Homo sapiens: one gene and its partners. The protein of the gene in region 1 interacts with the protein of each later gene in a biochemical or structural test. Each region holds a gene or a part of one and is shown on either strand. Other genes may lie near its edges. The genes, in order: MAP2K4, MAP3K1, MAP3K5 and MAP3K4.

The links.
Region 2: of the proteins of MAP2K4 (region 1) and MAP3K1, one has a biochemical effect on the other in vitro, tested with the Homo sapiens proteins (7 studies listed by BioGRID and IntAct, with this or other methods).
Region 3: of the proteins of MAP2K4 (region 1) and MAP3K5, one has a biochemical effect on the other in vitro, tested with the Homo sapiens proteins (3 studies listed by BioGRID).
Region 4: the proteins of MAP2K4 (region 1) and MAP3K4 form a complex in vitro, tested with the Homo sapiens proteins (2 studies listed by BioGRID, with this or other methods).

The regions. Positions count from the first base shown.
Region 1 is NC_000017.11:12,107,867-12,114,893, reverse strand, and holds part of MAP2K4 (dual specificity mitogen-activated protein kinase kinase 4), read right to left. Parts: coding exon 6,985-7,027; intron 4,520-6,984; coding exon 4,468-4,519; intron 1,662-4,467; coding exon 1,534-1,661; intron 1-1,533. UniProt on the Homo sapiens protein: Dual specificity protein kinase which acts as an essential component of the MAP kinase signal transduction pathway. Essential component of the stress-activated protein kinase/c-Jun N-terminal kinase (SAP/JNK) signaling pathway.
Region 2 is NC_000005.10:56,888,549-56,895,575, reverse strand, and holds part of MAP3K1 (mitogen-activated protein kinase kinase kinase 1), read right to left. Parts: intron 2,046-7,027; coding exon 1,896-2,045; 3' UTR 1-1,895. UniProt on the Homo sapiens protein: Component of a protein kinase signal transduction cascade. Activates the ERK and JNK kinase pathways by phosphorylation of MAP2K1 and MAP2K4. May phosphorylate the MAPK8/JNK1 kinase.
Region 3 is NC_000006.12:136,691,472-136,698,498, reverse strand, and holds part of MAP3K5 (mitogen-activated protein kinase kinase kinase 5), read left to right. Parts: coding exon 1-10; intron 11-1,111; coding exon 1,112-1,280; intron 1,281-2,441; coding exon 2,442-2,548; intron 2,549-4,188; coding exon 4,189-4,359; intron 4,360-7,027. UniProt on the Homo sapiens protein: Serine/threonine kinase which acts as an essential component of the MAP kinase signal transduction pathway. Plays an important role in the cascades of cellular responses evoked by changes in the environment.
Region 4 is NC_000006.12:160,987,500-160,994,774, reverse strand, and holds the start of MAP3K4 (mitogen-activated protein kinase kinase kinase 4), read right to left. Parts: upstream 3,007-7,275; 5' UTR 2,844-3,006; coding exon 2,692-2,843; exon of another isoform or gene 2,433-2,691; intron 1-2,432. UniProt on the Homo sapiens protein: Component of a protein kinase signal transduction cascade. Activates the CSBP2, P38 and JNK MAPK pathways, but not the ERK pathway. Specifically phosphorylates and activates MAP2K4 and MAP2K6.

The DNA of each region.
Region 1 (7,027 bases):
AGCAAGAAAACAGAAGTCTTACATCTCCTGGGCCTGCAAAGCATATCTCTGCACAAGAATGACGAAAGTCTGTTTTAAAGAAAGTCTGAGTCTTTCTTAGAAAGCTGAATTCAAAATATTCTACTTTATCTGGGCTGCAATTGCATTTTCAAAGCCTGCTTCAATCAAATATAATTCTTAGTCAGTGTCACACAACAAAAACATTTAGTCACTGTTAGTATCGAGACAAGCCCTAAAACTGTAAATAACAATTTCAGTTCATTCTCGGGGTATCCTTAATAAATATGTAAATCACATTTCCCAAATACTCCATGTCTAATTTTTTTTATTTCTTGCCTTTGAAACTATTGTGCCATTTATCCCTAGTTATCACGATAAACAAATGATCTTCCAAACTGAGTCAAGAAATCTGCCCAGCCAGTCAACATCCACAAAACCAAAAGTTTAAAAGGTCTTACCACACAGGTTAGGTGTCTACACACACACACACACACACACACACACACCGCTTTTACATGTTCATCTGAAGAAAAAGTGATATGGGAAGATATAACAAAACCAAAAGAGGATTGAAAAATGCAGTAAGTTGAATTTGTAGTAGCACTAAGCCTATCCATTCATAAATAATCTAGAACACCTATAATATCTAGCCTGTGACTCTTACTTTTTTATTATTTATAGCACTAGGTTTGAAAACATATATATCAAGGAGGAAACCAAGAAAGAACAATTTTATTCAATTCTAAGCTTATCTTTAGTTTAAAACAGTCTACAAAGATGGAAAGAAATGCTGCTGGCAGGGAGGCCTCAAGAAACAACCACAAAACCTTATGTGTCACATTTAGTAGTGTGCTGGTCCCCAAAGAACCATGGCAACATTGAAGAAAGACATTAACACCTAGGGAAATGTCTGAAATACAGACACTACATTTTCATTCAAATACAGATCAAAATCCAGGCTGTAGGAACACTGTATGCAAATATACTGGGGTAAGATGAGTTTGATATCTATGGATGGATAGTGTACATCTGTCTCTTTGCAGGAAAAGAGGCTCCAGGTTGCAAAATACTGAAGGCCTCTACCTTTGCATTTGTTGGTGTGCTTCATCTACCCCTAAAAAAAAGGACTAACAATATTCAAAATATGCAGCTTCAGACTCTGTAATACATAGTGAATTCTGCTAATGAACTCAAGGCTTCCCATTTGTCTCACTAAGGGACGGTGGGAACTTTCTGAGAAGTTACCATCTGTTTAATGAGTTGAGTTCAATATAATGAAAAAACAATAATCAGAGAAGACCACAACTGCTAAATACCAAGTAAGAGAAATAAAGCAAGACAATGAAAACAGGAGCTGACTGGGATAATTTAGCAAAGTTTCATGGAGAGGCTAGGACCTGAGCTTGGGCCTTAGGGTAAGGGAAATATTCTAGCAGTTTCATGGTAAAACCGTATGACTAATGGCCAGCACAAAAGAGCACAGGCTCTCTGTGCAATGACTATCAAGCAAGAAGGCCTGGACTTAACACTTACTGCCATGTATGGCCTACAGCCAGCATCTCTTGTCTTGGCAATAGAGTCCACAAGCTGTCCACTGATGCCGAAGTCACAGAGCTTAATATTTCCACTTCTGTCCAGAAGAATATTGGAAGGTTTGATATCTGCAAGACATAGATATCATTCAGTATACAATTAGCTTCTTCCTAAGTTACATAAGGCTTCACTTTAAGCAAAAATATTGAAAAACCTTAGACAACATAAGTGGTCAAGTCCTTAAATTCAGATATATAAGAAGTAAAACATCTTCATTTATCACATACAATAATTATTCATGTTTTAAACATGTAGCTTTAATAACTATAATTGTGTAAATGTAACAGCAAAAGTCATTTCACAAACATTAATCTGTAAGATATAGATGGGGATTGATTTTTCTCTTAACATCTTCATATTTATAAAACACAGAAAAAACAATGGTTTTCTTCTATTGAAAATGAGAAAGGAAAACAATTTTCTGAATGCCAGTGCTTAAAAACTGAATATCAAAAAAAATTTTCACAAGAAATTTAGGCATTAAATTGTTTTCAAGAGGCTTACAAATTCATTTACTTAGTCCAGATTCATTACATAACAGTCAAAATATAAGGAATGTCAAATCCCTTTCTCATTGACAATCAAGTCACTACCAGTATGTGCCAACTAATTCTCTATCCATAGCTCAGTCCTTTTATCCATGTCCTTGTCACTATCCTGGCTCAATGAATAAAAAATAAGGTTTTAAAATATAGGATGCAGAAAACATCTAAATGTAACTCAGAAGGTGATCCACAAAAAAATTCAGTAAAGATCTCTTACCATGACCGAAACAGCTGTGGGCCTATCAAACATCCATTCCTAACCATCCATGCTTTTTTTTTTTTTTTTTTTTGAGACAAGAGTCTCGCTCTTTTTTACCCAGGCTGGAATGCAGTGGTGCAATCCCCACTCACTGCAACCTCCGCCTCCCAAGTTCAATCGATTCTTCTGCTTCAGCCTCCCAAGTAGCTGGGATTACAGGCATGCGCCACCACACCTGGCTAATTTTTGTATTTTTAGTAGAGATGGGGTTTCACCATGTTGGCTAGGCTGGTCTCGAACTTCTGACCTCAAGTGATCCAGCTGCCTTGGTCTCCAAAGTGCTGGGATTACAGGTGTCAGCCACCACACCCAGCCCCATCCATACTTTCTAACAGAACCTGTGTTTTATTGAAGTATCTCTTCTCATCAACATCCACACCTCGAAAACCTGGCTGTTGGCTGGTATAAGTTTTATAAGGGTAGTCTCATGCTTCTTGATAGTAGCTGGTTTAAGGGCATGAGGCACTTCTGGTGAATGAGCCAAGAAAAGGTATTAGAGACGTGGGAAAAGTTTCCATACTCCCTACAGAGCTGCACAGCACGAGAGCACCTCTTCTTCACGAGGCAGCCACATATAGACATGATAGTGGGAACTGCTCTAGTTGTTACTACCCTGAGGACAGAGTTAACACATGAAGGAGGACAGAAGGAAGAGGAGCATATTGTGCTTTGAGCCACCCCATCTTTGGACTAATTATGACAGATAATGAATTTCCCTGAAGTTTAAAGAGAGTTATCAGGATTTTCTATTACTTGTAATCAAAAGCACTGACTCCAACAAAAAAGCTAACTGATCCTAACTGATAAAAGATGGCTATAAACTCATCACTTCATTTAGTAAGAGAACAATAAAAGTTACTTCTGAAGTTTTTTTATTTTATTCAACTACTCCCCAGGCAGTACCTTGGTGCTTTACTGTGATCAGTAAATATCCCTAAGGTAACTATCAAATGCCTCAAAGGTGCTACTCTCATAATTATAGAACACAGCTAACAAAGAAGGGAAAAAAAAAAAAATCAAGACAAGAACAAGAAGAAATACAAGAGAAACAAAGAATTTTGTTTAGGGACCTAACTCTACATAATTTTAGGCCAAAAGAAAAAAAGATATTATTTCTAACAAGCATTAAGCCAAACAAAATTAAATAAAATTTACTGATGTTCAAGGTTCACTAATTTCAGTGGCCTAGTGTCAACCACAAACAAAAGAACTTAAATAAATGGCCCAATTACTAATTTCTTTAACCACTAGAAATTGTCTCCCAGAATTAGAAATTTTTCACTTCTCTTCATTTTGACCCTTTACTTTCCTTCCTATTTACTGTCAGGCTAAATCACACACTGCCACTTACTGTCAGGTTTTTCCGTTACAAATTTGCTGAGGGGTAGTGATTCGGTGTGTTTCCTCAAAGCCAGCACCTCATTACCCTGAGTCTAGCACAGTAATAAGTAAAGCAAGCACTTCATCTATTTGCCAGATTAAATTCAGGATTCCCACAGGGTTACTACTTTTCTAGGTCTGGCCTTCAACTACATCAAATGCTTCATTTGAATATGTATCTAATAAAGGCAAGATCACTGTTTACACAAATACAACATGCTTTAGAGAAATTTCAACTTATAATACTAATTAAAAGATTTCTCTCAATTTAGAAACATCCTCTAATGTGAAGAAGAAACAACAGACAGGGATAGCATGCCTTTAAAATGCTTGAGGGTACTATCCCTCAGATTCTTCTTTGAATGTCCACAGGACCACCTCGATGCCTTATTTGTATGCAGAAAAACATTATCTATCAGGCAAATGAATAATTATTTTTCAACTAATAACAATGTGCAGCAAAATCTATTTCAGTTTCTAAGTCCAACATACTAAGATAGACTGAAATTTATTGAATCCCAAAGAAAAAAATAGCAGTAATAGAGTTTTAAAGTACATAAAGCATTTTTTGCTAAAAATACAAATATTTTAGGAAAGTTTATACAGTGACACTGTAATTTTCAATAACCGTTTCACCAATTAGGAGAAAAAAGTTAATTTCTATTACAAAAAATACCAATCCATACCCACCTCTGTGAATAATTTTCAAGTTTTCTTTTAAGTGGTTTAGTGCTTTCACAGTCTAGGGAGAAAAAGGAGAGATGGGATAAACAACTTGTTTCTTTTTATTCAAACAGCACAACAGTTTATCACAAGTAATATCCCGTGTAGTCCTCTGCATACATTTTAAGCTTAATATTTCAATATTTTGTCATTTCTTGTTAACCAAAGATACTGAATAATTTTAGATCTAAAAGCTTAGTTGCCTTTATATGCTGTTCCCTGATAGCTCAAACAAACAAAAAACCCAGTAACTTAGACTTATAATTTGTTTAATAATTCATTTAAAATTTTATCTTTTTTCCTATCTCCAACCTAAAATTTCCTTTTTTTTTTTCCCTTTTTATTTTGAGACTGGGTCTCGCTCCCACCACAGCCTGCCAAGTAGCTGGGACTACAGATGCATGCCTGGCTAACTTTTTACATCTTTAGTATGGACAGGGTTCTCACTATGTTGCCCAAGCTGATCTCAAATTCCTGGGCTCAAGCGATCCTTCTGCCTCGGCCTCTCAAACTGCTGGGATTACAGGCATGAACCATTGTGCCTGGCCTCTAAAATGTTCAAAAATAAAAACAGGACAACAATGATCACTGAGTTGGTTCCATTTCAACTAAGAGTAATAACTTGCAGCAAAATCGATTTCAATTTCTAAGTCCAGTAGTAAATAAAAAAGTTTTCTAAACTCTCAGTTCCTCATCATCATCCACCCTCATTGGATGCTAAGCCTTCAAGGTGATGTTTGAAGAGCTAGTGTAAACTCTGTTCACCACTGTGGGAATTTATCCTGTTGCCTGGTCACTGATCATGATCAGAAAATTACACATTTCTTCAGGAAGGGAAGGAAAAGAGACACAACCTCAAACTAAAAGAGAACTAAACAACAGGCCAACTATTTGCTGTAAGGTGACGTCTTTGCTGACGTCAAGCTGCTAGGTACAAGAAATGTAGAACACATAAATTTGTTGTGAATAGCTATGCTTGTTTGCTGGTTTATTAATTAGCAAGAAGAGACTAAATACAAAGTATTTTACATGTGTGCTTAATATATATAAAGTGATCACCAAGTCTTGACTTAGGCAAATATGGAATAAATCATTTTTTACAGTATATATTCTTTATATTGCAATATATGATAAAATAATTTTCTGTTTTCTAATTTCATGGTCACCCTGTTATACAGCGGTTAAGAGCAGGGTTCTGGGATCAGGCTGCCTGGATTTAGATTATTTACCACTTACACACTTCAAAGCATATTAATTATTTAATCTGTCTATGCTTCAGATTTATCATTCATAAAAATGAGGTAACACTATTTACCACAGAGAGTTACTATGAAGATTTAATGTCACAAATAGTTTGATGCAAATAAGCATTTAATAACCATTAGCTATTATCATTTTTCTATTATTATAATTATTACAAATAGTAAGTTTCAAGATAACACGGGTTTAATATATTAGAGAGAGATGGCTAAACTAATCATTGTAAAATTTCATATACCCCGCTAAATAATAAGTTTCTAGTCTAAGTTAGCTTCTTTTTATACAATTATTTTTATAAAATTTAAAAATAAAATGATTTCATAAAATCTTTTTATGAAATTATTTGAAAGAGTATATATCTTGGTGAACTACATTGGAGGGGGAGTATGCAGGTAAGGAAGAGCTAGGAAATTACATGCAACCAAAGTATCTATTTTACAATTTCCTGTATGATTTAGTTTATATATCAACTAACCTAGAACATGCCATTAGCTCAGATTCTCAGGAGTTTCTAAGAATCTTATGAATTTTGCTCTATAAAAAGTAAATTATCTTTTTCCTTTAGGAAAAAAAATTAAGATTCAGAGCAAGAAACAAAGTGATCAATTCACTTTCAAAACTATAAACACATATGTAAAAAAGTAGCTATTTTCTTTTTTGGTACTCTGGTAAAAGTGAGTTAACCAAATTTAGTAGTAACACTGGCCCCTGAAACTGCTAGTCAAAATTTTAAATAGTTTAGACTGAATAACCAAAATCTTAAATCACAGTAAACATACTTTGTCCAAGGGCTTCAATTATGGAGTAACCAAAATCTTAAATCACAGTAAACAAACTTTGTCCAAGGGCTTCAATTATGGGGCTTCAAGGAGACTGCTGTGATTCTGATTAATTTCAGGATAACTGTGGTAATATAACCTATTTAAAAATAGTTAAAGCAACAGGAAAAAATGAACAGAAAATTGCTTTTCCTAGCTTTATTTACAGAACAGTCTGTTATGACTCATTGAGATTCAAAGGGAAAGAACATTGGCAGTATTTATCGAGACCATTATGACCTATTGTGTTAACTACCCCACAGAAGTGACTTTGTCTCTGGTTATTAACTATGAATTATTTTCAGGAAGGTACTGTGAGTGACACTCAAATATGTGCATTCAAAACTCCAGCAGCATCTCTATATAACTATATACACAATGAATAATTTAAAGACCAGGTACTTACTGCTAAAGTGATTTTGCCTAAAATTTCTTCTGGAATAACATCA
Region 2 (7,027 bases), on another chromosome or scaffold:
GGGCATGGTGATCTACAAAGTAATACTGATTAGCTGAGGTTCCTCAGTTTATACAGTTTACATTTTTGTCAGACACAGTATTCATCTGACCAATGATCTTCCAGTACATAAAATGGCAAGAGTGCATCCTTTAAAGCTTGCACATGAGAGACTTGGAAACAATCTTATTAGAATTGTGAAAATTCTAAGTAGTCAAAAAAAAAAAAAAACAAAATAAAAAAGAAAGTCAAGTACAACACATTTAGAGATACCAAACTTCACATTTCTGTACTATTTTTAACTCTTCAAATATCGCCAATCTTCCAAAACAAAGGAATGTAAAATTTCACTAAGAAACATATTCACATAAAAAACAAACTGCCTTTTAAAAATTGTAAGCAATATATCCCTGTAAACTTATCTTGTAACTTATTTTATTTCCAATTTGTGTTGTACATTTTAAATGTACTCTATATATAGCTTATTTAGTTTATCCTGAGTCTTTGAGAATAACCAATTCTATTTCACACTGGCTTCTGAAGAGTTAAAACTAAAATCTCAAAGTTGTACTTAATAGTTAATCAGTACTTGATTTAAAAGACTCACACACACACAAAAAGATTAAAAAGCTACCATTTTCCTTCAGGATTCCATGCATCTGAATTTAACTCCAGACTAAAACCGTTAGGTAACTGTGCAAAATCCAAGGAATTAGTGTATAAATGAAATTCAATTCCATTTTTCTTTCTGAACACATTTTCCAAGTTCAAAGCAAATGTACTGTTTAAAAACATTACTGATTGGTAGTTGAATAATCTTTTTAAAAAATGATCTGCCAGGCCTACTGTAAAGAGATGATGCATGGTAAAAGGAAAATGGCAGCTCTATGTTACTACCAGTAGTGAAGGTGAATGATGGATTGTTACATACAGAGTAAGACTTAAATGTTGTGAAGTTTCCTACAGTTTGACAACCAAAACATCTAAAAAATTCAAATAAATTTTAAGGTAATCTTGATCTTGGTTGTGAGTTGCACCAGAGAGGACAGTTTATTTTTAGTTAACTTGTACTTAACCTGCACAATAAGAGTGGTGACTGACTCAAATGTAGGTAGTACTTTATTGTATTCCAATTTAAAAAAACAAAATTAAGTCTATATTTTAAAAACTCTGACAATAGCAAGATATTTAATGAACTCTACTTCATATCTAGTTCATTTTTTTTTTCTGGTTTGAAAAAAAGATCAGCTTTCCCTGAATAAACAAAAATGAATGTAAATAAACATGAAAATACAAAACCATAATTTCCAAAAACGAAATGAATGGGCCAACAGTAAAATGCACAATGAGCCACAACTGCCCTGGTATTTAAGAAAATAAAGGTCAACTGTGGGTCATAAAGAAGTATCAACTTTTAAAAATATATGTATGTATTGCTACTCATAGCATACTCTGACCTAAAAGAGGCAGATACTGATTTTATAGCCAGTGACAAAAAATTTGAACGGAATTGCAGAACCCCCTGCTTGTGATCACTATATGAAATGGAAGAATAATTGAAATATTAAAATAGATCCTGAGCCCCTCAGCCGCTAATATTGCTGAAAAAGTGCTCCAAAAAAATAAAATTATGCTTCTGCAATTTAGTCATGCAAACTTCATTGTTTTCCTGTTCACCTAGGGCCAGTTCTTTGAAAGGCACAGTTTACAGTTTCTGCACTAGTTTGGGCTTTTGCATACTGAGCTTAGGTACAGATCATGATTTGTCAATCACATACTTAGGTAAGGGTTCCCCACTGGCCTCGTTCATAGCTGTTCAGTGGCATCATGGCCAGTAGAATATCAATGTGGTTCCCCACAAGTTTTTTTTCTCTTGTTGAGCATCCTGTTTCTACTGTAGTTGATCTGCATAATTGGCTACCATGTAGTACGAAAGACTGGATGCTTCAGTAGCTCTCTTGATGGAGGTCTGTCCTGAGGTTGAAGTTCTAAACAACGAAGAGCCACATCTCGTAAACCAGGAGACAAATGTGAAGGGATCGATGGAGCAGTAGTTGCACTAGCAATCTGTGGAGAAAAAGCCAGTGTTGAAGCTTTGCACAACTGTAACTTCTGATACAGAAACACATGTGCATAGACCTCATAACCCTTACATTTACATCCTGAACAGAGAGGAACTGAAGCAGAAGTGGGAGGATTTTCTGCTATCAAAAAGTCTATGAAAAAATTCATCCACTGGATGGGAGGTTTTCTCTAACAATCTTTCAAATTTTAGGATTTTAGGATTTGATCAAATATATCCTATTCCTTATTATTTACATCAACAAGGCTAAGTACATCAAAATGTTCAGGTAGATAAAGTATTCACTCAAATGAATTCTGCTGTCCTCATATTCAATCTCCGAGATGGTTTGTTCTTACTGCACGTTTTCTATTTCTTCAGCATACAGAGCTATTTAGATTAAGAAAGACTAAAACTGAAGAGTCAATTTAATACATAGAAAACACAACTGCATTGTTTTTTTCCTTCCGTGTTGGACAAATTCTGATTCTTAGTATCAAATACACTATGAAGAATAACTTTTTTATAAACAAATTGTAAGTCTGAATACTTTTTTTTTAAAAAAAAAGAAATTTTATTTGGTCTTATTTGTAGTTTTTCTAAAAAAATTCAAAATCTGATAATTATTTTTAAATTGTGATACACTCTTTACATTCTAAAATTTGTGCTGCAATAACCATATTTTAATTTCAAGTCATATATAAAAAAAAGTATTAGTTTTCTAACAATTTTTGAGCACCCATTATGAATCAGAGCTGACTCCAGGCAGAGATAGTGTCTTTCTTGCATATCTCCCTATTTGTGGTATCAATTTTCTTCTTCTTGAAATGCATTCCTAAAAATAATTTTTTTCAGTGAGTGTCTGCTGAAGGTAAACTTCCACAATTCTCATGTGTCTGAAAATATCTCTATTTCATTCTTATTTTTTGATGATCATTTAGCTAGCTATGAAATCCTAGGTTAACTGTTATTTTATTTCAATCACTAGAAGGTACAATTTGTCTTTTGAATTCTCTTGTTGCTGCTGTATTCTGTTATCCATATAATTGTTATCAATTTTTTTTCTTGTAATTTGTCTTTTCTCTTTGGTTCCTTCTTGTCTTTAGCATTCTTCAGTTTCATTAAGCTGATAAGCAACTTCAGCAAAGTCTCAGGATACAAAATCAATGTGCAAAAATCACAAGCATTCTTATACACCAATAACAGACAAACAGCCAAATCATGAGTGAACTCCCATTCACAATTGCTTCAAAGAGAATAAAATACCTAGGAATCCAACTTACAAGGGATGTGAAGGACCTCTTCAAGAACTACAAACCAGTGCTCAATGAAATAAAAGAGGACACAAACAAATGGAAGAACATTCCATGCTCATGGATAGGAAGAATCGATATCGTGAAAATGGCCATACTGCCCAAGGTAATTCATAGATTCAATGCCGTCCCCATCAAGCTACCAATGACTTTCTTCACAGAATTGGAAAAAACTACTTAAGTTCATATGGAACCAAAAAAGAGCCCACATTGCCAAGTCAATCCTAAGCCAAAAGAACAAAGCTGGAGGCATCATGCTACCTGACTTCAAACTATACTACAAGGCTACAGTAACCAAAACAGCATGGTACTGGTGCCAAAACAGAGATATAGACCAATGGAACAGAATAGGGCCCTCAGAAATAATCCCACACATCTACAACCATCTGATCTTTGACAAACCTGACAAAAACAAGAAATGGGGAAATGATTCCCTATTTAAGAAATGGTTCTGGGAAAACTGGCTAGCCATATGTAGAAAGCTGAAACTGGATCCCTTCCTTACACCTTATAAAAAAATTCAAGATGGATTAAAGACTTAAATGTTAGACCTAAAACCATAAAAACCCTAGAAGAAAACCTAGGCAATACCATTCAGGACATAGGCATGGGCAAGGACTTCATGTCTAAAACACCAAAAGCAATGGCAACAAAAGCCAAAATTGACAAATGGGATCTAATTAAACTAAAGCGCTTCTGCAGAGCAAAAGAAACTACCATCAGAGTGAACAGGCAACCTACAGAATGGGAGAAAATTTTTGCAATCTACTCATCTGACAAAGGGCTAATATCAAGTCTGAATACTTTAAACTCACCTATCCACTCCTAATCACAAGAAAACTCTCTTTTCCCTACCCCAGTAATTTCATAAATGCTTTGGGTTAAAAAATGCAAAGTAATATAAAGAAAAATCCTCTAAGGTCTGTGATCCTGTATCATGATATACTCAGCTGATATATACACATCTTACACACCACAAAAAGGAAAAATACAAAACAAAAAAAGTCCCTCTTCCTTCTTTTCCCCAAATGTAACTTACTGATGATTTGTGTGTGTGTGTGTGGGGGGGGGGGGTGTGTGTGTGTCTGTGTGTGTTTTGTGGAGGAAAAAAGGCCAATATATTCACAGACTTAAGATTTTCTAAAATGTCTACAAAAGAGAAAACTTAATTTAGAGACAGGGTCTCGCTCTCACTGTCACCCAGGCTGAAGTGCAGTGATATGAACATGGCTCACTGCAGCTTTGACCTCCTGGGCTCAAGCGATCCTCCCACCTCAACCTCCTGAGTACCCTGGAGCACAGGTGCGTCTCACTATGCCCAGCTAATTTTTTTTTTTTTTTGGTAGAGATGGGGTCTCGCTATGCCCAGGCTGCTCTCCAACTCCTGGGTTCAAGTTTTGTTCTTGCCTCAGCCTCCCAAAGTGCTGGGATTACAGGCATGAGCCACTGTGCTTGGCCAGGATCACTTTATATACCTTGCTCTTTTCACTTATTAATGTATCTTGTAGCACTTTGTAAATCAACACCAACAGCTTCATACTCGTTTAATTTCTGTATAGTGTGGATAATTTAATTACTTTCTTGAGTAGAGTGAATAATCCTGAACTTGGCACTTGGTACTTCTAGAGGTAATCTTGAGTAAATTCCTAACAATGGGCATAGCTGAGTCAAAGAATAAGTGCATTAAAAATTCTGGCAGATATTGCCAAATCACTCTCTAAAAAAACGTGCTATGGCAATTTATACTACCATAAACAGGGTATGGAAGTGTTTGAGAAAGCTTTGGGGTGCTTCCAAAAACCTCAAAGTATTTACTCCAAATTAAGGAAACTGAAAATGTTACAGTACAATTCTCTTTAAACTCTACCTAGGAAGGAGAATGCAATGAAATCTGTTAAAATATGAACTGTGCCAATTTGAAAATTATTTACAATTGTTTCCAGGGTCTCATCAAAACTCTTAAAATAACATCAAACTTTCAAATTGATCCTAGCCATGAGTATTTATTGAGCAACTTCTGTATAAGACTCTGGGAAGAAGAAAATGAATCAGACATGAATGGACCTCAAGGAGAATTAGTTTGAAAGAGGCAGCAAGATAGGAACATAACTAGCAAACAAGAAACAAAGTGTCAGAAACAAGTATGTACTAAAATGCTATGAGAATCTGGAATGAGTAAAAAGGGGGTGCCCAAGCAGGAGAAGCACAAAATGGGGGCCTTAAAGAGAATAAGAATTTGAACCACGTAGAGAACGGACATGGGACGTCTGAAAGAATAGAGGAAATGAGGTGATAATACAAAACAGGTATTGTCAGAGAGGTGACTGAGGAGGTTATATAATAAGTGTGGGGAGCACTGGAGGAGGTTATGGCAGGTGGAGCTGACTGTGTGGGCTGAGTGCTTGACTAAGGCCTAGGTATAATTTTGTTTATCTTCATAGTAATCCCACGAAGTACATGCTTCATGGGGTTCTTGCACCAATTTTACATGTGAGAAAATGGAGGGTAGACACAAAAAATAATTTTCCTATGATTACATGGCCATTAAGGGGTAGAGCCAGGGTTTAAAACTAGGTCAGTGTGACTCCAAAGCCCATGATTTCAACCATCACATCTACTGAAAAGCTAAGAATATCAACCATTACTTATTCTATGGTGGAAAAGGAGAGAATGGATTTGTGAGTTATAAAAAAGTAGGAAAGGCAGACAGGACTGAACTGACTTGGGTGTGAATTTTTAAAATATACAAAATAGTAAATTAGGCCAGGAGTGGTGGCTCACGCCTGTAATCCCAGTACTTTGGGAGGCTGAGGTGGGCTTGAGGTCAGGAGTTCGAGACCAGCCTGGCCAATATGGTGAAACTCCATCTCTACTAAAAATACAAAAATTAGCTGGGCATGGTGGCGCGTGCCTGTAGTCTCAGCTACCTGGGAGGCTGAGGCAGGAGAACTGCCTGAACCTGGGAAGCGGAGGCTATAGTGAGCTGAGATCGTGCCACTGCACTCCAGCCTGGGCACTGCAGCGAGACTCTGTCTCAAAAACAAAAACAAAAAACAAACGAACAAAAGAAAATGGTAAATTAGATTTTAAGATTTTTGAATTATGTAAAATGCATGAATTTCACGTTTTTAAAGTGATGGATGGATATATATACACACATACATATACATATAAACACACTACATATTTCTTCTAGAAGCAGTGTTTTAGTATTTGCTAATTCAATATTTGTAGCAACTTAACAGAGCATAACTACCTCAAATAACAAGAAGTGACTATGTATGTCACTAACATTGACAACACCATTGACAATATCAACTCCTGGAAATACACACATACACAGATGCTCTTCAACTTACGCTGAGGTTATGTCGTGATAAACCCCTTTTAAGTTGATGATATTTTTTTAAGTTGAAAATGCAGTTAATACACCTAACCTGCCAAACATTATAGCTTAGTCTGGCCTACCTTGAATGTGCTTATAATACCTACATTAGCCTACTGTTCCGCAAAATCATCTGACAACACAGTCCACTATAGAGTATTGGTTGTTCACTCTCGTGATTGTGTGGCTGACTGGGAGCTGTGACTCGCTGCCACTGCCTAGCATCACCAGTGTATCATAGCACATATTGCTAGCTCAGACAAAAATCAAAATTCAAAGTATGGTTTTT
Region 3 (7,027 bases), on another chromosome or scaffold:
CAAGTTCTAGGTAAAGTTTAATTAATAATGCCATTTGGTGATGACAATAAAGTGTTATTCTACATCTTTATTTGTGCATGATATCAGGTGCTCCTGAGATATCAGTATACAGCTAAGAACTAGGGGGAAAATGTTTATTATCCTCCAAGTAGATAAAATAGATGCCACATAATACATTTTATTCACAGAACAGCAACTTGAAATCAGCAAAAAATTAAAAAGTCTACTAACCGCTTTATAGTGATGGTAGAACTAAAAATATATACAAAGCAAGTACAGAAACAATACCAGGATAAATGTCCAGGGACTTCTAGTGTAAGGGCAAGAACAATTCAACTTTAATTAACTCTTAACTCTAATTGTTCTTTCAGTGAAGAACAATTATTTATGTTAATAAATGATAGGCTGAGTCAGGAAGTTAAGGTTATATTATGTTCAAATCATAGGTACATCACGGCCAGTGCCGTGGCTCATGCCTGTAATCCCAGCATTTTGGGAGGCCGAGGTGGGCAGATCACTTGAGATCAGGAGTTCGAGACCAGCCTGGCCAACATGCCGAAACCCTGTCTCTACCAAAAATACAAAAATTAGCCAGGTGTGGTGGTGCACACCTGTAATCCCAGCTACTCACAAGGCTGAGGCAAGAGAATTGCTTGAACCCAGGAGATGGAGGTTGCAGTGAGCCAAGATCATGCCAGTATACTCTAGTCTGGGCAACAGAGTGAGACTCTGTCTCAAAAACAAAAACAACAAACAAACAAAAAATCATAGGTACATCTAATTTATTTAGAACAATTTGTACTGGAAACAGTAAAATGGAAAACAAAGTTTTGGCATTTTAAGTGGTTTTTTGCAGGAAAATTTATTAATATGGAGTACCTTTACCTTTAATTCTTTCTGAAGGCAGAGTAATAAAAGAAATACATTGGCTTCTAAATTTCTTAATAATGCCAGATATGTAAGATATTTATTTAGGCATCTGAATGAACTGAAAACTACAAATGCTTTATAGCTAATGCTGCAATATCATTCATGTCTTTATTAAAATTATTGCTTTTCATTGAAATTGTTTCTAATGTCAAACTCTTTGAAATGTGTGTGTTTTTACCAGCCAGTACTTCCGGGAATCTATACTCAATGACATCAGGAAAGCTCGTAATTTATACACTGGTAAAGAATTGGCAGCTGAGTTGGCAAGAATTCGGCAGCGAGTAGATAATATCGAAGTCTTGACAGCAGATATTGTCATAAATCTGTTACTTTCCTACAGAGATATCCAGGTGAGAAGATGTTTAAAGTGAAATCTTTGTTGTGTAGCATGTTGGAGGGATAAGGGAGTATTAACCTCAAATTTCAGTTTGCTGGTAAGCAGTTCATGTTACTACACGTAATTTTTTATTGACTCTCTTAAGCTTTCCATCCTATAATTTTATGATGAATGAAAAAGACTCATGTGAGTTAACCATCAGTGATTGTGAAAGACTTGTATGGTAAAGGCCTGACTTTTTCCTCCAAAAGAACAAAAAGAAAAATCTGCTGGCACAGCGAACCTGTGGACACAGTCTATTCTACTGTTAGCCTCAGGCACACCTGTCAGTGAAAGCTTTGTTTTGGCAAATAGCAGACATTTTTAGAGCTTTCTGGACATACCTTTTATCCCTTGAAATTGTATTGCTTGAAATTGATAGTGCTGAATCTAACTCGCCTGAAGGAAAAAATATGTAATTGATTACCTACAGAAATAACTTTAAAAATATGTAATGTAAAACACACTAACAGGTTATATCATTTTTATTGACATGTCTTAAAATTTTAAAAATAGGGTAAGTGGAATAAAATCCTCTCCAAGTTAGGGATTTGCTCTTAGGTTTTAATAGTAAAATTTAAATGACATCTGGTTTCTCCTTTCCATTCCTAGCCTTTCAGGTCTGTGTAAAGGCTTCATGTGCTCAAGACAGACTCACATCCATGGAGGGCTGTGGCACATAGGATCCTGTGGCTAGAGTGCTTACTCATGTGACATGAAACTGTGTTGCTACTTGTAACAGAAGTTCAACCCATTGCCTCATGTCCTTGACATTTTTATTTCCCTGAAATTGTTAGAACACTGCATACCGGGAATCTGGCTCTATGGGGAAATAAATCACCCATATTTAGACAGTAGAGCACTATCATGCTTGGTGTTTTTGTTTCTTTTGCTTTTTTAGTTTTTGTTCAACATGGTAACTGTATGTTTCTAATGTTTTTATATATACGATCTAAACCTTTTAGAAGAAAAACAACAAAAACTGTTTATTCTAGGTTCTTCAAAGTGTTCTGTGGATTCTAGTGTCTTTTTAATGTGTTTCTTGAATTCAGATATCTGGTTGTCAAAAGACACGTTATTGTGAGAATTTTCTCCTAATGGTTTAATTCTGTGCTATTCTCATCTAATTTGAAAGGACTATGATTCTATTGTGAAGCTGGTAGAGACTTTAGAAAAACTGCCAACCTTTGATTTGGCCTCCCATCACCATGTGAAGTTTCATTATGCATTTGCACTGAATAGGTAAGAAGAAAAAGTTCCCTTCCAGAATGCGTTAACATATTATTGTGTAACCTGCAATTCTTTACAGAGAATGTGTTCACTGCAGCATTGCAAGAAGTCCCTATTAAAATGTAATATTAGCATATCTGCTTCAGCCCCATGAAATATAGGAAGCATGCATTCTCATTTTTTTCTGATTTATTTTTCAGTAAAAAAAAAGTCGCACACTGTTGGTATATTTAAATTCTTACAGGTTTTCTGCTCTGTCAAAGTTTGTATTTGCTATTCATATTTTTTAGAATTGTAAAAGTTACATGAATATGATGTTATCTTTAAGCAAATACACTCAACACCAGATGGTCATTCACACAAAAGTTTTCACTAGAGTAAGGATGGTTATGTCTAGGTGAACATAGTGTTAGATAGTTATTACCAAGGATAAAAAGGAATTTCTTGGACAGAAGATTTGAAGTAGTAATTGAGAATAGAAATGATACCTTTTTTATAATAGCTTTATTGAAACATATTTCACAGGCTGGGCGTGGTGGCTCACTCCTGCAATCCTAGCACTTTGAGAGGCCAAGGTGGTCGGATTGCCTGAGCTCAGGAGTTCGAGAGCAGCCTGGGCAACACGGTGAAACCCCGTCTCTACTAAAATACAAAAAAATTAGCCAGGTGTGGCAGTGTGCACCTGTAGTTCCGGCTACTCGGGAGGCTGAGGCAGGAGAATCGCTTGAACCTGGGAGGCAGAAGTTGCAGTGAGCCAAGATCATGCCACTGCCCTCCAGCCTGGGCAACAGAGCAAGACTCTGTCTCCAAACAAACAAACTAAATATATTTCATCAAAACAATAAATTTTAAAACATTTTCATCACTCCACAAGGAAACCCTGTACCCATTAGCAGCCCCCCTTCCATTTCCCTCCCAAATCCCCCAACTCTAGGCAACCACGAATCTACTTTCAGTCTTTACAGATTTGCCTATTCTGGACATTTCATATAAATGGAATCATACAGTATGTGGTCCCTTGTGACTGACCTCTTTCACTTAGCATAATATTTTCAAGGTCTAAGGAATGATAACTCTTATAGAATTTTTATCTGGTTTTGTGAACTGTCTACACATACTATTTTAAAGCATGCTACATAAAGCAACTTCCTTAGATAATCAGTTAGTCACACGTAGAAATCAAGCAGTTCTTGGGTTTGATTTGATTTTTGGTATCATCTGTGAATGAGTTTGCTAAGTTTTGGAGCAAAAGCCATTGAAACCTAAGGTCAGGGTTTTGTCCCTACTTGGCTTTATTTACTCTACCCTATTCAAAGACACAGACTACAACTCTAATCTCGTTTCACCAACTTGAACCTGCATATAGGCTGCAGGGAAATTGGAAGGATTGTGGATGAGTAAGTACAAATCCATCACCATTATTAACACAGAAACTCAAAAGAAATCCTTGTTAGACCTAGTAGACATACAATGGGATAAAACAAAAAATTAGGCTTAGGACAGAGGTTTACAGAGGACTCTCAAAATCTAATTGTTTCTGTCCTGGCAAATTTCTCTAATATGAATCAACATGTTAAATAGGGTTTTTAAAAAAGAATTGATCTATATTGCTTCTGTAATGTATATTGAAACAACAATGTTTTCTGCCTTAGGAGAAATCTCCCTGGTGACAGAGCAAAAGCTCTTGATATTATGATTCCCATGGTGCAAAGCGAAGGACAAGTTGCTTCAGATATGTATTGCCTAGTTGGTCGAATCTACAAAGATATGTTTTTGGACTCTAATTTCACGGACACTGAAAGCAGAGACCATGGAGCTTCTTGGTAAGTAAATAGTATATAAATGAGCTACTTACTTAGTAAATCCATGGCATAAAAAAGTATTTGCAAATGAGAGTGTTAAAGTATTATTATAATCCATAAGATTGTGTATTATGAACTAAACCTTAGATTTTATTTTATTTTATTTTATTTTTGAGATGGAGTCTTGTTCTGTTGCCCAGGCTGGAGTGCAGTCATGTGATCTTAGCTCACTGCAACCTCTGCCTCCCAGGTTCAAGCGATTCTCCTGCCTCAGCCTCTCCAGTAACTGGGATTACAGGTGCCCGCCACCACGCCCACTAATTTTTACATTTTTAGGAGAGACGGGTTTTGCCCTGTTGGCCAGGCTGGTCTTGAATTCCTGACCTCAGGTGATCCAACTGCCTCTGCCTCCTCAAGTGCTGGGATTACAGGCGTGAGCCACCGGGCCAATCTTAGAGTTTATAACTTTAGTAAATAATTTGATGAAATTCATTTAACATAGTATAGTAAATTGGGATAAATAGATGAAAAGATAATTTAAGAAATATAATTTTAAAAAGATATTTTAAATAAGTAATATAAATAATAAAATATAATTTTGTAGAAAAATTTATATAAAGACAGTTTAAAAGACCTGAATGAAAGGAAAAAATATACCGAGTTTGTAGATGAGAAGGCTTGATATTTTAAAGATTTTAATTCCCCCCAGCAGGGGTTTTCATGTGATTTGACAAACCAATTCCAAAATTTATTTGAAAGAATAAAGGACTGAGAATAGGCAAAGCAATTCTGGAAAAGCACAAGGTGGAAGGACTTGCTCCACCAGTTAACAAGACTCATTATAAAGCTGTAATGATTAAGATATTGCAGTATGGCTATAGGCATAGACAAACAAAGCACTGGAATACAAGAGACAGCCTGGAACAGACTAAGATATACATGAGTCTAGATTTATGGCAGAATCAGCTTCATGAGCTGTAAAGGAAAGGATGGAATCTGTAGTAATGATACTGGGAAAATTTCTTTATCTGCTTGGAAAAATAAAATAAAGTTCTATCCCCATTTTAAGCCATGCACAAAAAAATGAAATCTAAGTGAGTTAAATACCAAAATATGAAAAAATACTTTAGAAAAATATTTTTAGAATAAAGTGTACAAATTATGTATGACTATTGGATAAGCAAAGATTTCTTTCTTTTTTTTTTGAGACAAGGTCTTGCTCCGTCACTCAGGCTGTAGTGTAGTGGTGCAATCTCGGCCCACTGCCACCTCCACCTCCTGAGCTCAAGTGATCTTCCCACCTCAGCCTCCTGAGTAGCTGGGACCACAGGTGTGTGCCACCACGCCTGGCTAATTGTTTGTATTTTTGGTAGAGAGAGGGTTTCACCATGTTGCCCTGACTGGGGCAAAGATTTCTTAAACAAGGCTTAAAAACGCCATATACCATAAAAGATAAGACTGGGAAAATGGTCTACATGAAAATTGGCTTCTGCTCATCAAAGTAGTAGCTTTTGGAAACAGCAGAGTAGATTCTATTGTGCTTATCTTCCTGTTGATAACAATTATAAATGTTGGAAAAAAGTTGGAAAGCACTGAAGAGTGATTAAAAGTAGCTAGAAACTGGAAAGGTTTTCATCCTTGGATGAAGGGCACCGCATAGGATAAACTCCACATTTAAATGGCTTTTCCCTCAAGACATTCCCTGGTCTGCAGGGAGCAGGACAGATAGAACTCTAGCAGGAAATCACAGTCTTATTGGCCTGAGAGTGAGTTTGAGGCTGCCGGAGGACCTGGACATTGAGTGGGATAAGCCTTTGTGTGAACAAGGTGAACCACCAATAATTTATTTACCTTTTATTAAAAAACTACATACTCTTAAGAGGAGGAGAACAAATCCAAACTCTCTACAGCTTATCATCCAAAATGTCTAATACACCATAAAAATTACTAAGCAACCTGGGTGTGGTGGCATGTTCCCATTGTTCCAGCTACTCAGGAGGCTGAGGTGCGAAGATGGCTTGAGCCTAGGAGTTCAAGACCTGCCTGGACAATATAAAAATACCTTGTCTTATTAAAAAAAAGAAAAAAAGAAAAAAAAGAAAGAAAAACTCTCAACTACTAAAGTGGTGAAGAAATAGGAAAGTGTGATTCATAATTAAGAAAAAAATTATTCATAGAAATAAACCCATAGATAAAACAGAGTTTAGAATTACCAGACAAGGACATAAAAATAACAATGATAATTATATCAAAGAATCTACTTGAAAAGATGAACATAATGGGTGAAAATATGAGGAATTATAGGAGATATTTGGAAACTGGAAATAACCAAATGGGAGTTCTAGAACTGAAAAGTACAATATCTGAAGTTGAAATGTCATCAAATCAGATTAACAGCAGATAGGACACAATACGATAAAAGAGCAATAAACTTCAAAACAGATTATTAGAAATCATTGAAATTGAAGCAGAGGAAAGAAAGAGATGAAGTCATTAATAATTCCAATGACCTGTGGCATTTAGTGGTCTAAATACTTTTTTTTTTTTTTTTGAGACGAATCTTGCTCTGTTGCCCAGGCTGGAGTTCAGTGGTGCAATCTCACCTCACTGCAACCTCTGCCTCCGGGGTTCAAGCGATTCTCGTGCCTCAACCTCCCAAGTAGCTGGGATTACAGGCATGCCCCACCAT
Region 4 (7,275 bases), on another chromosome or scaffold:
GAGCTGAGATCACGCCACTGCACTCCAGCCTGGGCAACAGAGAAAGACTCTGTCTCAAAAAAAACTAAAAAAACCTAAAAACTAAAAGTAGAACTACCATTTGATCCAGCAATCCCACTACTGAGTATCTACCCAAAGGAAAACAACTAATCATATGAAAAAGACACATGTACACACGTTTATAGCAGCAATTCGCAATTCACAACTGCAAAAATATGGAACCAACCTAAATGCCCATCAACCAATGAGTGGATAAAGAAAATGTGGCATATATACACCATGGACTACTACTCAGCCATGAAACAACGAAATAATGGCAACTGCAGCAACTTGGATGGAGCTGGAGGCCATTACTCTAAGTGAAGTCACTCAGGAATGGAAAACCAAACATCGTATTCACTTATAAGTGAGAGCTAAGCTAGGAGGATGCAAAGGCGTAAGAATGATATAATGGACTTTGAAGACTCGGGGGAAGGCTCAGAGCGGGGTGAGGAATAGACTACATATTTGGTACAGTGTACATTGCTTGGGTGACAGGTGCACCAAAATCTTAGAAATCACCACTACAGAACTTATCCATGTAACCAAAAAACACCTGTACCCCAAAAACTATTGAAAATAAAATAAAAAAGAAAATTGTAAAAAAAAAAAAGAGGTGGCATTTCACACATTTTGAACACGTACACTGAGCTCCTCTAAAATGGTTAAAAAAAAAAGTTCAAATGAACAACTGGATAGACCCCCTACATCTTTTACCAAAGATCTACAGTAATTCTGTCAGAGGTCAGTTCTATGTATTGAAGAGCAGGTGGTGACAACGAGGACATAAAAAAGAGAAAACAACAGCTTTGTCAAGTAATCTGTTTTACAGATTTTTCTATTGTAAAATTAACTGCAATGTTGCTAAGAAAAATATTGAGATCTTCTTGTTCCGTACACTGCTGTTCACTTACAGTTGGATGAAACCCATTATCCTGACCTATTTTTATTATAACACAGACAGAAGCCTGACTGAAAAGTCAAGTTTTTTTTTTTTTTTACCACTGAAGCAGCAGTCATTTTTGCAGCACATTTTCATTTCTCTGCCCTTCTCGCTTTTACCTAAGAATGCTCATGTCCATTTCTTTCCGGAGTAGGGTTATACAGAATTCTAATTTCTGATCCGCCCATTTGGATAATGAATTCTTCATGGTGGTTAAAGACATGGGCTGTGCAGCCAGACCTTTCTTCATTACCAGCTGTGAAACCCTGGACAAGATACTTAAACTGTGTGCCTCAGTTTCCTCATCTGTCAAAAAGAGAGTATAACAGGACCTACCTCATAGAGTTGTTGAAAAGATTAAATGGGTTAATAGAAATAAAGACAATGGCCTATTTTAACCGTTAAGTGTTCACTATTAATTTTAAAGAAAAAGGTATCAAAATTGCTCGAAAACTGATCCGTTAACAAATTTATAATAAACTTTCTGACAAAATTTCTAAAAATACTAGATGTATTCAAAAGGAACCAAAGGAATTCTCATTACACCCTGTACCATTATTCAGAGAAGTTGTTCCTTAGAAGTACCCAGAACTATCTCAGAATTAAAAGAGGCAACTAATTTCTTCACAGCTTATAAAAATAAAACAAATTTGTTTGGGCCAACTGAATGATGACAAGCAAGAATATGGCTCCTGTGTTCAGTTCTAACTACAGTTACAGGTGTGAATTTTCTTTAAGCAGGAAAAAGAGGACACTTTACTGCCTTATTCCTAGAACCATAGAGCAAGACCATAAGATGCCAAGAGGAGCTGCCGAGGTATTTTCATTACAGGGGACAGGGGGCAGCAGTTTGCAAGTTTACTCTGGGATGCAAAGGACAGGGAGTAAGAGGACATTTGAACATACAAACATAGGCACGTAAAAAGAGGGAAATTCTCAGTTATGGTGAGTTTGTTCTCTCAATTAAAAAAAAAATAAAGACATAAAAATAAGTTAATAGAGTATGGAAGAAAAAGCAACAAATGCTTTGGTTACCGAAGTTCCACCTTAGAGCTTCCTGCAGTAGCAAAGTTTTAGACAAATGAATCCTTACTTTTGTGCACGTGTGAGCAACAATCTGCACAATACTAGCACTAAAGGACAGTAAGGGGCCCTCAGAACAGGAAAGCAACGTATCTGTCTGCATAGTCTAAGTGCAATTTCTCACGGAAGAGATGACAGGCATTCTCTGGAGCGGGCAAAAGGAGAGGAGGAGGAGAACGCGGGGAAATAGCCAGTACGCACTCGATTTCCGAATGTCTCTTTTACTCGAATGAGGGCAGAGGGGAGGGACCACTTTCGTTCAGTAATGATGAGAGGCACTTCAGTGAGGCCACTCTTCCGAAGCTAGCGGCAGGGGAGGCAGCCGCACTCTGCTCCCAGCCCCCGCAACGTTGAGGGTGAGCTGGGGGAGTCTACAAGGGAAGGGGAGCCGGCAACACGCTCGAGCGGAACCCTGCGGAGCTGCAACCCCGGGAGGAGTCGCCGGACAGACTCAGACGCGGTCCCCTGGGACCCAGGGATGCACCGCGCCCCTCCCGCCCCAGCCTGCAGAGACTGGATGCTTCCCTCCCCACCTGGCGGGAAGCAGAGGCCCTCGGGCCCGACCGAGTTCGGGCCAGGACCCGCCCCGCTTTCTGCGAGCGACCGACTGCGGCCGCCACACTCACCTCGCCGCCAAGCAGCACTCGGGTTCTGACTCGGTCTCGGGTTCCGGTGGCGGTGGTGGCGGCGGCGGCGGTGGCGGCGGCTCCTCCATGGCGGCGGCAGGCGTGACGGCAAAGGCGGGAGGAGGGACCAGCGCGGCAGCGGCTTCTCTCATCCGTGCACGGAGCCCCGCATGGCCGCGGCGGGCAGTAAGCTGCAGCCTGGCGCGGGGCACCGGAGCCCCGAAGTGCGGGAGTGACTCGACTCCGCCTCCGCCTCTACCCCGCCGCAGGAGCCGTGCGCGCCGCGGCCATCTTGGAAACGGCGACCGGCCGAGCGCCGGGGCTACGGTGGGCGGCGAGGGACAAGCCTCCCAGATCGGCGGCGGTGGCGGCGGCGGCGGCGGGCGCCGGAATGCGACCGGACGGGGGCGGAGACGGCGGCAGGGAGGGGCGGGGAGCGCCGTCAAGTGTCGGCGCGATTCGGTCCTGGAGCCGGGTCTCGCCAGCTCGCCCGGTGTCGCCCCGGCCGGTGGCAGTGGGGGACTGTGGAGCGGAGCCGGGCTGTGCAGCGGGCTGGGAGCTCGAGGCTTCCCAGGCGGTCGTCGGTCTGGGAGGGACGCTGGGTAGGGCCGATGAGCGGGGCGGGCGCGACGCTATGAGCCCGGCCGGAGTCGCCGCCCAGGGACCTGCCACCCGGATCCCACCTTCCAGGAGGACGGACGTCACCCAGACGCTCGCAACTCCGGTCTCTTGACAGCGCAGCCTTCCACAGGCTCGAATTTTTAAGACTTGACATAAAGTCTCCGGAATTCCAGATTATTAAAGTGACCCCCTCATTTCAACCCGGCAAAACTTCTCACCCCAGTGTCATAAGATTCGATAGCGATCTCCCAGAAACTTGGACTGGAATGCTCCTACACTGAGGGGATGGGGGGAAGAAGAAATGCTAAAGATTATTTCAGAGTTACAGAAATCCTGTTGAAATTCCAATGCATCGTTTACTCTTAGCGCTGGGGCTTCACAGTTTTTTTTTAAGTTGGAAATATTTACAAAATTTCCCATAGGGTGAAATCCAGAGTTAATCCAAAACCAGAATCTTTTAAAATTAAGTACATTCAAATGTGCAGATTTCTTAAACCTCATTTAGTTGAGCTTTGATAGGTGAAACGCACGTTTTGAACAACTCTGGTAACAAAGAAAAACATTAAATTGATTATAGGTATGTTATATTTAAAGACCAGTTGTGAAATTAGCTATATTGTGCTCAAAGTATGTTACTGACATTTCTCCGTCGTTAAAAGGAACTGCTCCATTCTAGTTTTTTATAATAGTCTGTATTATGTATATAGCCTGATAGTGCTGAATTTCTGAATTGACCTTCATCTTATTTACTCAATAATATTCATTTGACAAATACTTATTAAGTGCATATATGTGTCAGGAACTGTACTAGATGCTGAGGATATAGCAGTAAGCGCAACAGACCAAGCTAACAGCTTAGTAAAGGGTGAGGTAAAACAAAACAAAAAAGTATTCAAAAAAATAAACTAATTTTTATCTTAATTTAAAAAATTACAAATTTTTAAAAATCACAAATTGGTATCCATGTATAATTCATTTCCGTGCATTTTCTTGTGTGAAGAAAGCTCAGTAAAAGTATTTCTTAGGTTTCTGTAATTCTAGTTCTCTACTCGATTTTCTTCTGCAATTTTCTGAGCCAGAACCCTTCTTAGAAGGCATATTAGAGACTTTAAAAGTTAAATAATAAAATAAATCTCTTCTTTAAACAGCATTGTACTACGTATTCTTTGGTATGACTACCGAATTTAAGCTAGCTGATAATGCAGACACGTGTGTCCAAGTCACAAAACACTTAGCAAATATAATCAGCATGCGGGAGACCTGTGGCTTGTTCTTGTGTTTTAATTTCCACTTGAGGATACTATGTATTTTAGCAGGAACCAAGTAAATTTACACTTACCTAATCAAGTAATGCATCATGTATAGAAACCTAAGTTAACTGGTACTAAATATTCAATATAAGTGTTGTGACTTTTCGCCCCACCCCCATGCTGGGTCCAGGAAAGCTGTTTCTCTGGCTGACAACCCTCTCATCTCACCCCGTGCCCCCACTTTGTCTTCAGGGCTCCCAGTGAGCGCCTCACAGCCCCCAGATTTCTTTTCTGCCTTCTCCACCATAGTGTAAGCTCCTTCAGGAAAGAAGCTGTTCTTCCTTCTTCTGACCTTTGCCTAGGGATCAAATGTCTCTGGTGCCCAACATGGTGTTAGTAGAACTCAGTAAGTATTGTTGCATTAATGAAATAGTTATTTTTTTTAAGTTATTAGATTTTTGTCTCTAAATTTTTATTCTTGTTTAGCACATGGTTGGTCTCATTGTCTCATTACCTTTAATAATGTTCTTTTTTTATTTTGGAGACAGGGTCTTCCTGGGCTCAAGTGATCCTCCCACCTCAGCCTCTGCTGTAGCTGGGACTACAGATGCATACCACCATGTCCAGCTAATTTTAAACATTTTTTTTTTTTTTTTGGTAGAGCTGAGGCCTCACTATGTTGCCCAAGCTAGTCTTGAACTCCTGGCCTCAAGTCTCCCAGAACCCTGGGATTATAGGTGTAAGCCACTGCACCCAGCCTAATCATGTTAAAAACAATGACAACAAAATCTTCAGAGAATTACCTTTCACTCTTTGTCCTCAAGACCGAATCCACATAGCCCTTATGGAATTTCTTTACTTTGAAATGAGTTTAAAAAGCTAAGGTTCTACTGAAGACCTAGTCTAGGTTGAGCTACGTAACATTCAGAACATTGCTTACCATGAGTTTAAAGCCCATTTTTGACATACACAAAACCAGTTACATATTCATATGCATGTTCTTTCTGCTTTGCCAAAAACACTCAAAAACCTTGGACATATGCTACCACTATTATGAAGTCTCAAATTTCCTCTCTATATAGTGTGTATATATATATATGTACATAAATGTAAAGGGCATAATTGTAACACCTTAGCATATTTCAAGGCTAGTATATTAGTCAATTTTATGGATTTTGCCACAGGATTATTTAAAAAAAATTTTTTTATTTTGAGATGGAGTCTTGCTCTGTTGCCCAGGCTGGAGTGCAGTGGCGTGATCTCAGCTCACTGCAACCTCTGCCTCCCAGGTTCAAGCGATTCTCCTGCCTCAGCCTCCTGAGTAGCTGAGATTACAGGCACCTGCCACCACACCTGGCTTTTTGTATTTTTTAGTAGACACAGGGTTTCACCATGTTAGCCAGGATGGTCTCAATAAAATAAGTGATGTGATAAATAGGGTTATGTCTGCTATTAAAAAGAAAAACCTCTAAGGCTATAGTTTTTAAAATTATTATTAGCGTGGTGCTGCATTTTACTTAAAATAAGTTCCTCCCTTCCTTGTGGTATTCCTGAGGGAGCACACCCCTTCATTTCCTTCTGGAAGTGCAGGGAGTTAAAACCAGGAGAGCCCACATTTCTTCATTCCTGTTCTGGTTTCTCAGTTCCCCCCGACCAGATTCCGGTGTGAACATTCAGACAAAAACTTCAGCAGTTCTGGCCCTCTGCTCTCTGGTGGCTCCTCTACAGCTCCGCAGAGGCAGAAAGACAGGCAGCACAAACATGCAATCTGCTCACGACCAGAGGGGCTGATTAATTTTCACTCCAGCACACGCAGAGAAAGGCAGACCCAGTGAAAGAGAGCAATAAAAACCTCACATCCATTGGAGAGGACCTAAACTAAGCACGACACACATTGATTTTTTGTTTCATAATGATACAGTGGCATCTATTTCTATCTACTGGTAAAACACCAAAGAAATACTGGATATGTACAAAAGATAGTAAACTTTTTTAAAATTTACTTTTAAGATTAGGTGTACATCTGCAGGTTTGTTATATAGGTAAACTTGTGTCATGGGGGTTTGCTGTACAGATTATTTCAACACCAAGGGATTAAGCCAGTACCCATTAGCTATTTTTCCTGATCCTCTCCCTCCTCCCACCCTCCACCTTCCAATAGGCCCTGTGTGTGTGTCCATGTGTTCTTATCATTTTGCTCCCACTTATAAATGAGAACATGGATGTTTGATTTTCTGTTCCTGCATTAGTTTGCTAAGGATAATGGTCTCCAGCTCCATCCATGTTGCTGCAAAGGACATGATCTTGTTCTTTTACGTCTGCATAGTATTACATAGTGTATATGTACCTCATTTTCCTTATCCAGTCTACCACTGATTGGCATTAGATTGATTCTGTGTCTTTGCTATTGTGAATAGTAGTTACACACTTTTTAAATAGTCCTTATAACCTTAAATCTCATCCTTCTTGGCTGAGTAGTAGGAAGTTGGAGAAAACCTCCACTGTTTATTTGCTGAGAGGTGATTTGCCTGTTTTTGTTATTTCTCCACCATGACATAAATCACCCCTTATTGCAGACATTCTCCTCTGCATGAAGAATCTAAATTGAACCCCCAGGGGCTCCAAATCAGTAGATAAAGAATTAAAGATTGCATGCTTTCAAAAAATAATTAGAATAGTGGGAATTACCCAAATGATTGAAACAAATAAAGGG